Homo sapiens: one gene and its partners. The protein of the gene in region 3 purifies or fractionates together with the protein of the main gene of each other region. This does not show direct contact. Each region holds a gene or a part of one and is shown on either strand. Other genes may lie near its edges. The genes, in order: SCFD1, MCEE and OGDH.

What was found.
Region 1: the proteins of OGDH (region 3) and SCFD1 fractionate together in Homo sapiens (co-fractionation; one large-scale study listed by BioGRID). This does not show direct contact.
Region 2: the proteins of OGDH (region 3) and MCEE purify together in Homo sapiens (co-immunoprecipitation; one large-scale study listed by IntAct). This does not show direct contact.

Annotation. Positions count from the first base shown.
Region 1 is NC_000014.9:30,667,268-30,670,920, forward strand, and holds part of SCFD1 (sec1 family domain-containing protein 1), read left to right. Parts: intron 1-2,988; coding exon 2,989-3,128; intron 3,129-3,653. UniProt on the Homo sapiens protein: Plays a role in SNARE-pin assembly and Golgi-to-ER retrograde transport via its interaction with COG4. Involved in vesicular transport between the endoplasmic reticulum and the Golgi.
Region 2 is NC_000002.12:71,128,057-71,131,809, forward strand, and holds the start of MCEE (methylmalonyl-CoA epimerase, mitochondrial precursor), read right to left. Parts: upstream 2,174-3,753; 5' UTR 2,164-2,173; coding exon 2,124-2,163; intron 1-2,123. Other genes in the region: MPHOSPH10 (U3 small nucleolar ribonucleoprotein protein MPP10), read left to right, coding at 2,610-2,698. UniProt on the Homo sapiens protein: Methylmalonyl-CoA epimerase involved in propionyl-CoA metabolism.
Region 3 is NC_000007.14:44,676,127-44,679,779, forward strand, and holds part of OGDH (2-oxoglutarate dehydrogenase complex component E1 isoform 1 precursor), read left to right. Parts: coding exon 1-23; coding exon of another isoform or gene 24-101; exon of another isoform or gene 102-456; intron 457-3,653. UniProt on the Homo sapiens protein: 2-oxoglutarate dehydrogenase (E1o) component of the 2-oxoglutarate dehydrogenase complex (OGDHC). Participates in the first step, rate limiting for the overall conversion of 2-oxoglutarate to succinyl-CoA and CO(2) catalyzed by the whole OGDHC.

The DNA of each region.
Region 1 (3,653 bases), on a different chromosome or scaffold from region 3:
CATAATCCATCATATAAACAGAACCAAAGACAAAAACCACATGATTATCTCAATAGATGCAGAAGAGGCCTTCGACAAAATTCAACAGCCCTTCATGCTAAAACCTCTCAATAAATTAGGTATTGATGGAACGTATCTCAAAATAATAAGACCTATTTATGACAAACCTACAGCCAATATCATACTGAATGGGCAAAAACTGGAAGCATTCCCTTTGAAAACTGGCACAAGACAGGGATGCCCTCTCTCACCACTCTTATTCAACATAGTGTTGGAAGTTCTGGCCAGGGCAGTCAGGCAAGAGAAAGAAATAAAGGGTATTCAATTAGGAAAAGAGGAAGTCAAATTGTCCCTGTTGGTAGATGACATGATTGTATATTTAGAAAACCCTATTGTCTCAGCCCAGAATCTCCTTAAGCTGATAAGCAACTTCAGCAAAGTCTCAGGATACAAAATCAATGTGCAAAAATCACAAGCATTCTTATACGCAAATAACAGACAAAGAGCCAAATCCTGAGTGAACTCCCATTCACAATTGCTACAAAGAGAATAAAATACCTAGGAATTCAACTTACAAGGGATGTGAAGGACCTCTTCAAGGAGAACTACAAACCACTGCTCAACGAAATAAAAGAGGACACAAACAAATGGAAGAACATTCCATGCTCATGGATAGGAAGAATCAATATCGTGAAAACGGCCATACTGCCCAAGGTAATTTATAGATTCAATGCCATCCCCATCAAGCTACCAATGACTTTCTTCACAGAATTGGAAAAAAACTAAAGTTCATATGGAACCAAAAAAGAGCCCGCATTGCCAAGTCAATCCTAAGCAAAAAGAACAAAGCTGGAGGCATCACACTACCTGACTTCAAACTATACTACAAGGCTACAGTAACGAAAACAGCATGGTACTGGTACCAAAACAGAGATATAGACCAGTGGAACAGAACAGAGGCCTCAGAAATAACACCACACATCTGCAACCATCTGATCTTTGACAAACCTGACAAAAACAAGAAATGGGGAATGGGTTCCCTATTTAATAAATGGTGCTGGGAAAACTGGCTAGCCATATGTAGAAAGCTGAAACTGGATCACTTCCTTAAACCTTATACAAAAATTAATTCAAGATGGATTAAAGACTTAAATGTTAGACCTAAAACCATAAAAACCCTAGAAGAAAACCTAGGCAATACCATTCAGGACATAGGCATGGGCAAGGACTTCATGACTAAAACACCAAAAGCAATGGCAACAAAAGCCAAAATAGACAAATGGGATCTAATTAAACTAAAGAGCTTCTGCACAGCAAAAGAAACTACCATCGGAGTGAACAGGCGGCCTACAGAATGGGAGAAAATTTTTACAATCTACCCATCTGACAAAGGGCTAATAACCAGAATCTACAAAGAACGTAAACAAATTTACAAGAAAAAAATCAAACAACCCCATCAAAAAGTGAGCGAAGGATATGAACAGACACTTTTCAAAAGAAGACATTTATGCAGCCAAAAGACACATGAAAAAATGCTCATCGTCACTGGTCATCAGAGAAATGCAAATGAAAACCACAATGAGATACCATCTCACACCAGTTAAAATGGTGATCAGTAAAAATTCAGGAAACAACAGGTGCTGGAGAGGCTGTGGAGAAATAGGAACGCTTTTACACTGTTGGTGGGAGTGTAGACTAGTTCAACCATTGTGGAAGACAGTGTGGTGATTCCTTAAGGATCTAGAACTAGAAATACCATTTGACCCAGCAATCCCATTACTGGGTATGTAGACATCTGTAATTTTTCAAATCCTGCTTTTTATGTCAAAGAGAAAAATGGCAAGGAAATAAACTATTATAAAAGATTTATTTGAGAAAGTTACAAGGTTTATGTTAAGGACCTAGAGTCAGTATTGATAACCTTGTTTTATCTAAAGGAGACTGAATTGCATTCAGTATATTTAATTTGCTAAGACCTAGAATAATCATTAATTCAAAATATATACAGATACCTTAGAACTAAGATAATTATATTTCAGTCATGCTGGATAATTTCTCCATACTGTGTCTTCCTTCTTCATCAATCATTTACTTGTTGATAGTCATGTTTTATCTTTCACTATTCTTTAGTTGGCATTAAACCATAAAATGCTGCTATTTGTGAGGGAACCCATAGATGTAATGCAAGAAGTTGGGGGAAAGAAAAAAGATACTTACTTTTATTTTTGCCTAATGGTTTTTGTGGGTTTGGTTTGGTTTGGTTTTGGGTTTTGGGGGGTTTTTTGGTTTTTTTTACAGAAAAGGTACAAAAATCAAGCCTCACGTGAATAAAATTAGTCCTAGGCAAGAAAGTTTAGCCACTACTGGCCTGACTCTTAAAGTTTGTGTGAAAGAGGGGCATCACTTATTATTATAGCATCTATTGTAATTTTTAAAATTGCAGTTCATCACTCAAGTGACACATCAGAATGTTGACTCTCTAAGAGTTTAAAAATATTTAAGATAACATTTGTTACTGGAAATGACCAAGCATCAGGAGGCCTGGTTGCATAAGTTGATTTAGCCAAACATTGGACTACTGTGTAGTTATGATAAAGATGAAGTAAATGTACATATACAGATACAGAAAGAGCTGTAAAATGTATTATTAGATGAAAAAAGATATAACATGTACCCTGTAATCCCATTTTAAAAAATAAAATTAAGAGGATGTGTATGTGCTATTATATGCATCAATGTTTTTCTAGAAGGATACACAAGCATATTGACATGTTTTTCTCTTTTTCTTGTTTGAAATTTTAATATACATCTAATACTTTCATTAAAATACAGAAACAAAATTACATTTGTATGTAACAAAAGATTGGGAGGAGATGTTTTAAATTTCAGATCTATATTTTGTCCTTGGAAACATTAGAAAGGGCAACAAGATTCTATTTTTATTAGACTTAGAAAACAGTTGTTTAACACAAGATTACTTTTTCCTAGGATTTCCATTTAAACAGGGTTAATTTGGAAGAATCTTCAGGAGTGGAAAACTCTCCAGCTGGTGCTAGACCAAAGAGAAAAAACAAGAAGTCTTATGATTTAACTCCGGTTGATAAATTTTGGCAAAAACATAAAGGAAGGTAAGCAAAATATCAATAAGTAAAAGATTCATTTTTTTAAAGAGAAATTAAGGTGTCATCCACCTTAATGAATTTGAGAAAAAAAAGGGTCATGTAGGTTCGTTCACCCAATGAGTGGGGGCTGTAATTAGATAGTCTGTAGATATTTGTCTTTATTTCTCCATTTCTCACTGATTCCTAAGTTGTTTTTTGTTCATTGTTGTTTTATAGGGACCGCTTCTCCTTTCAATGAGATCATCCTATACAGATAGTCTTTTTCAATTTTGTTGCTGTCTCCACTGACTCTATAAGACCATCTCTGCCTTTCATTTAAATTGGCTTTTGTGATTTTGGGGGTGATTTTTTCCTTTTTGTTACATGTTGCCCTCATGTAAACCTTGTTTTAGATACTTGTGGAGAGAGTACCTAAGCCTAAAAGCCTAGAAATTTATTCAAAGTACATTAGAAATAATGAGTGATAAAACTGCATTAATTTGCCATGTGATTTACTGTGGGCAGATATACATATCCCATGTGATGCTATGC
Region 2 (3,753 bases), on a different chromosome or scaffold from region 3:
GCACCATATATATATCTTCAACTTGTTTCAAACTATGATCAATTTTTTTTATTCATTACAGTAAGTAAACAGATTACATTTCTGTTAGCCCATTTACAGACGATTAATGAAAGTAAACCTATGCAGTCATGTAAGTTGGTCATTCTTGTCTCCCACCTAACAGGTTCAATTTCCATTTTCAGAACTTTTCTACGTGTTCACTCTGATTTTTCTGTGCTTTTGTTTTTCGGCGAAGTTTTATGTTCCTTAAAAGAGGGGCCATAACATAGAATTACCATGTAATCCAGCAATTCCACTTATGAGTATACACACCCCCAAAGAAGCGGGAATTCAGAAGTATTTGTACACCCACGTTCATAGCTGTATTACAATAGCCAAAAGGTGGGGATAACCCAAATGTCTATCAAGAGACGAATGGATAAACAAAATGTGGTATACACACACAATGGAATATTATTCAGTCTTAAAAAGCAATTTTTTTTTTTTTTCTGAGACGGAGTTTCGCTTTGGTTGCCCAGGCTGGAGTGCAGTGGCGCGATCTTGGCTCACGCCAACCTCCGCCTCCCGGGTTCAAGCGATTATCCTGCCTCAGCCTCCCGAGTACCCGGGATAACAGGCGTGTGCTACCACGCCCGGCTAATTTTTGTATTTTTAGTAGAGACGGGCTCACGCCTGTAATCCCAGCACTTTGGGAAGACGAGGTGGGCAGATCACCTGAGGCCAGGAGTTCCAAACCAGCCTGGCCAACATGGTGAAATCTCGTCTCCACTAAAAATGCAAAAAATTAGCCGGGCGTGGTGCCGGGTGCCTGTAATCCCAGCTACTCGGGAGGCTGAGGCGGAAGAATGGCTTGAACCTGGGAGGCAGAGGTTGCAGTGAGCTAACGCCACTGCACTCCAGCCTGGGCGACAGAGTGAGACTCTGTCTCAAAAAAAAAAAAAAAGGTAAATTTTACTTTATGTATATTCAACCACACACACACACACACAAGTGGAGACATTAAGCTTCAAGTATCTTAATAGGACAAATCAAAGGCAATCTTTGGAATACACTGTCTTCATTTTTCCTTTATGCCAAGATGTGTATGTAAGTACAAAACAAACATGCACCTTTATCTGTATTGAGTTCTTGCAGTATGTATATGACCTGTTGGAAGTCATACTTTTTCCCAAACTGTCAATCATTAAAGTGTGCAGTTCTAAAAATAGACATAAAAATGCCTTTTCCCAAATATTCATTTATTTATAGTTTTACGTTCCTATCTTGTGTATCACCTAAGAGGAAGGTATGCCTTACGGTTAAGAATGTGGGCTCTGGTGCTAGAAGGATTTATCACGAATGTCCCGGAGTAACTCTGGGGCATTACCACTTGGCACCTTCTTCCTAATAGGGAATCTCAGATTAAGGGAAATACTTGCCCTCTCATAAAAGGAGGAAGAGAAAAAAAAAAAGGATAAAAAGAGGAGAAAGTGAGTCAGAAAACGTGACAATTATTACAGTTATTTCTGTCATAACTGATTCTATGTACATATTTTAAAAAAAATGAAGGGGGAGAGAACTCAAGAAAGTTTCCAAATCCACATGCTTTTATCTGTGTACGCGATAAATATATTAGTGCACGTGGAAAAACCACTCCTTTTGTATTCTTTACACCACTGACCTTTGAGTGTTCCCAACAGAAAGCTGGTCACGCTTGGAGTTCGGCCGACTAGTAGTTGTTGTTTTTACGGAACGTGCTCTCCTTTCTGGTTTCTCCCCAGTCTCTTTATTGGTGCGCGGTAAAATAACTTACCGATCCGCTTCTATTTACTTCTGTCCCTGCCCTGCCTGACCTGCCGGGCAAGTTCCCTCGACTCTCCCGCCCACATACTGGAAGGTGCAGAGCCCAAGGCGCACAGCTCTCGGATGGAAATGGGACTCATGCACAAGGCAATCCCCGCTACTAAGCGGTGGCGCTTCTGGAAGGCACCCTCTGCCTAAGTGACAGCAGCTGCTGTGGAACGCGCCCCCGGGGGAGGACATTAGATCAAGGTGCTTTGGCCACGCCGAGGCCTCCTCCGCCCCCGACCGCCGTTCCCACGCTCCCTGTCCCATGGCGAAGGTCGCCGGTGCCCGGTATTCACCTACGGCATTCGCGGCTGCAGCCTTCAGCACCCGCGCCATTTTGGAAAGCAACCCGCCACGTCAAGACTAGCCACGGAGGTTGAGAGACGCGCGGCAGAGGGCGGGGCGGGAGGCAGAGGGGGCGGGGACAGAAAGGTCAGGGGCGTGGCGAAGGTCGCTGCTTTCCTGCTACAACGGGCCTACTTTAGCTAAAACAGAAACGTAAGGCCAGGACGGGTCACCCTTTGTGGGCCCCTGAAAAATACAAAACGAAGTTTGGAGAGAGTTGAAAGGCGTTTGGGCTGACCATGGAGATTTTTGTTTCCCACCCTCCTGCGAAAGCGCTCGCGCTGCCATTGGCTCTGGCTGAGGGCGAGTCCGGAACCTGTGCGCCGCGGAACTTTCGGCTCTGAAATCCAAGTTGCGCTGGGCGCATCTTTGCCGCGCGGTTTCCGGGCGGCTCCCTTCCCTTGCATGCTGCATTGTGTCGGGAGTTGCTGACAGCCATGGCGCCGCAGGTCTGGCGTCGACGGACCCTGGAGCGGTGTCTGACGGAAGTCGGCAAAGCCACGGGTCGGCCCGAGTGCTTCCTCACGTAAGTGCGCAGATCCCGGGCTCGGGGTGCGACCGGGGTCTCACGTGGACGCGGGTTGCAGGCCTCCGGCAAATTGTGGAGCTGGGGGAAGGTAAGGGGAAACGTAAAATCGCTTTTCCCCAAATTTCAGAGTTTATGCTTTCCTAGGCTATCAAAATTTTAAAAACTGTTAAAATTTGTATAGATGGATCTCTCAGTTGAGTGTTACTGAAATCACTCTAACCTCAATTGTTAACACCTAGAAGCTTCCCTTGGGCTTCTTACGCCCCCATCCCTCTACACACAGACTGTTGGTTTCTCCTTCCTCCTATGTGCTCTCAAAGCACTTAGCGCTTAGCATACTTTATTGAAAGTACGAACTTGTCACTTGTCTGTCCACCCCCCATGACTAAGCTTCTTCAGAAATAGAACTTCCATGTCTCTTCCCAACACAAGCGTTTTATATGTATTTTGTTGAAGAATTTAAAATGTGATCTATGAAATTATTACTCATTTATGTTTCAAACCCCAACCTTTCCCTGAGTTCCCAGCTCACAGCAACTACAGACTGAGCTTAGTTTGAATTCCGTAGCACACAACTGGGATATCCACACTGTACAACTTTTAACGATTTTTAAAATTTTGGTACTGTCAAGCATCTCAAATTCACTGCGTCCAAAATAGAGCTGTTGTGTCTGTTTAATAGAATTGTTGTTTCTACCCACCTATACTCTGCCATCCCCTGAAGTCCTTTTCCCATGCTACACCTGTCAAGCGCGTCTGTGTGAAGAGACCACTAAAACAGGCTTTGTGTGAGCCACAAGGCTGTTTATTCACTTGGGTGCAAGTGGGCTGAGTCCGAAAAGAGAGTCAACTAATGGTGATGGGGAAGGGGTTGCTTTATAGGAGTTGGGTAGGTAATGGAAAATTACAGTAAAAGGTGGTTATCTATTAGCAGAGGAGGACGGGGTCACAAGGTACATGGTGGGGAGATCATAAGACTTATTGTCCAGAAGAAGAATGTCACAAGGTCGATTGATCAGTTAAGGTAGGGCAGGGACAAGTCACAATGGAGG
Region 3 (3,653 bases):
GTGGCGACACTGAAGGGAAAAAGGTAAGGCCCAGAGAGAGGCGTGCAAGGCAGATCGTCAAGGCCCCATGTTCCAGCATGGAGTTCCGCTCACCAACATAACCCAGAGCCCTGGGTGCATCTAGACTTTAAAAAAATATTTAAAGTCGGCCGGGCGCAGTGTCTCACGCCTGTAATCCCAGCACTTTGGGAGGCCGAGGTGGGCAGATCACCTGAGTTCGGGAGTTGGAGACCAGCCTGACCAACATGGAGAAACTCCATCTCTACTAAAAATACAAAATTAGCTGGGCGTGGTGGCGCGCGCCTGTAATCCCAGCTACTCAGGAGGCTGAGGCAGGAGAATCGCTTGAACCCGGGAGGTGGAGGTTGCAGTGAGCCGAGATTACGCCATTGCACTCCAGCCTGGGCCAACAAGAGCGAAACTCTGTCTCAAAGAAAAAAATAAATAAATAAAAAATATATGTATATGTATGTATGTGTGTGTGTGTGTATATATATATATATATATATATATATTTAAAATCAACTTTTAAAGAATAGCAATAGTAAAACAGTCCTGCTTACAGTGTTCCTTTTCCTGAAGTTGTAATTGTCAGAACTATGTGGGAAGTTTGCTTTTGTCTTCACCAAATCTGTTAAGGAGCCAGGTTGCAGTTATTCTGAATGGACAGAGATGTTTTCACTGAAAAGGAGGGGAGTCTGAGAGTCTCTGTAAGGAAAAAGTGTAGGTGAGCCTGAAGGAGAAATTGTAGAACTGAGACTTGTCAGGAGAGTCATGCTTGCTGTGATTAGAGGCGGGAGTTCACGGGCTGGTAGGAGACGGAGGAGGGCACAGACTGCAGGCAGGTGGGGTCCTGCTTCACCATTTCTGGTCATGTGACTGAGTGTTGGGGGTTGACTCGCCTGCCTGCTTGTGTAGAAATAGTCTCAACAGATTGTAACAATTTGCCCTTATTTAACTTCAAGATAGAATCTTGTCTGACAAATTTTATATTTCCTATTAATGATGACCTAAAAACCAAATAATCAGAAAAAAAATCAAATATTTGTAATGTCTTATGTATGGGTTCTGGGAAACATATAAAGAAGGCATCACCACTTTTCTCTCCAGAGCCTCCTGTTCTTTTTAGAAAAAAGGTCGTGTGTAAAGAAGCAAATAGCACATACACGGCATGATAGGAAACTGGAGTTAGCCGTGAAGAGCTTTGGAAGAGGTGTGCAGGGGTGTGGGCTAGAGTTGGACCAAGGATAGAAGGCACACCCCTTAGTAGCAGAGCAGGTAGTTGTCATTTTATTTGAGAAGTGGCAGGATTTAGGGAGGTGGGAAGGGAAGAATGTTTTCTGGAGATGAAAGGTAAGAGCAAAGATGTAGGGGGAATTGGGGACACAGAGCAGGGAGGGGCCGGCCTCCTAGTTGTGCCCTGGAAAGAAGTCAGGTCTATGTTAGAAGTGGAACCAATTGGCCAGGTGCGGTGGCTCACGCCTGTAATCCCAGCACTTTGGGAGGCTGAGGCGGGTGGATCACCTGAGGTCAGGAGTTCGAGACCATCCTGGCTAACACAGTGAAACCCCATCTCTACTAAAAATACAAAAAAAAAATTAGCCGGGCATGGTGGCACACGCCTGTAGTCTCAGCTACTCAGGAGGCTGAGGCAGGAGAATTGCTTGAACCTGGGAGGCGGAGGTTGCAGTGAGCTGAGATCACGCCACTGCACTCCAGCCTGGGTGACAGAGGGAGACTCCTTCTCAAAGGAAAAAAAAAAAAAAAAGAAGTGGAACCAATTATTACTTTACCAGGCTCTATAATTTTAAATACTGTAAATCTACTACTGTCATGCTTACAGTGTTAGAGGAAGGGAAACTGTCATCATAGGTAATGGAGCCTGGGCTGGGGAAGTGATTCCCGCATCGATCAATGCTCACTGTAAAGAACGAGTATGACCCACAGGGACGCAGAGGTCATTCCATGGCTTCAAGCTCATGGGCCAGGACAGTGCCACAGAAACTTCAACTAGATGCAAAGAGGCCTTAGCTCTGGGGAACCTGCAGCCCCCGCAGGCAGTAACAACACTGGGTGTCTGGGATGGCCTGGGCTAAGGTGAGATCGGCATGGGGAGATCAGCATTGTGATGACCAGTGCCTCTGGTATTTGCACCCTCCTTGGCTAGGACACTCGCCCAGGCATTTGGGCTGAGTAGTGGAATGAGATTACCGAAAACTTTGGGTGATTCCCACATTCATAGATTGTGGACAGAAATCCACTCTAGCAGTACTCACCTCATAATGCTGGAAATTTCCCAAAAAGGAATGAAATCATTAGAGTAAAAGCAATAGAGTATATTTTAAACTGCTACAGATGGTCACACTGATTGGTCCCTTCATGAGATGCCAGGACAGGAGAGGCTGGTTAGTCCCTGATTTGCTCATAAGTCTGCATGCAGCTGAGTCCGAACTGTCAGTCCCTTTGTTTTCCAGTCTACACAAACCTTGTTGTCACAAGTTTGCCCTTGCCCCAATGTGGATAGCTGCCAGGCCCTCTTTCTGAGCCTCCTCGTCACCTTGCCTCAAGCCCTCACATGTCCCCAGCAGGGTCAGTGTGGGGTCATTGCAGGCTCAGCCATCTGCCTGTTCTTCTTACTCCTCTTGACACCCATAGGACATGATTTGATTTCTATTAAATCCAGAAACTCAGGGAGCTGGAGTGTGTGTTATGTAACTCTCAGCATTTTTCGTGAAGAATTACATACTTTCTGTAAGTGCAGCTGAGGTCATCCCATAACCTCATGCATGATTGTGAAACAGACCTGATTTGGCTCAGTGCTAATATGGCCTTTGGGATCTTTGTTCATGAAAGCATTTCCTCAGTGCAGCAATGCAACCTGCTGCAAAGGGAGAACCCGCTCCTGCCAGAGGTATGGCTCAGGCTGCCAGACACAAGGAGATTCCCCATGTGTCCTGGCTGTGATTTCAGCAGACAGTTACCACAGTGCAGTATGGCATGGTAGTCGCAGTACAACATCACCAGGATGATCAAGAGCAAATACCATGACAAGAGGAAGACTGACTACAGGTGCCCTGTCAGCAGAAGACAGACTGGACAGAAAAGTATCTGCGGGAAGAAACAACACACTATCGGGATCAGGAAAGCATGAAATGTCAGTGACTCAAAACCAATGGCTTTTACACTCAGGCAGCCTGGGCATCGTAGCAAAGCTGCACACCTCCAAGGGGGCCCCGTAAGCAAACCAGATCCTTACGTCCACATGCTGCTATCCTAGTGAGCACCTGCCACATCCACCAAAAGGCAGGACACCTGCAGTTCTGTTTTTAAAAATTCTAGGTTTTGTCCCTGACACACAAATCATGGGTCTTAACCAAGGATGACTCAGCACAGCGCTGAGGACCAGGGTAATCACAAGAACTCAGGGAGGTGCAGGTCAGTAGGCCCGTAGGCTGAGGACACAGCAGGAGAGGGTGTGTTGTATATCACCTTGGCTAGCCACAGCGTCCAGGTTTTTTTTGCTAAACACCCATCTAGATGGCATTTTGTAAAGATAAGATTAACGTTTAAACCAGTAGATTTTGAGTAAAGTAGAAGACCTTGCACAATGTGAGTGGGTTTCATCCAGTCAGTTCAAGGCCTTCGAGAAAAAA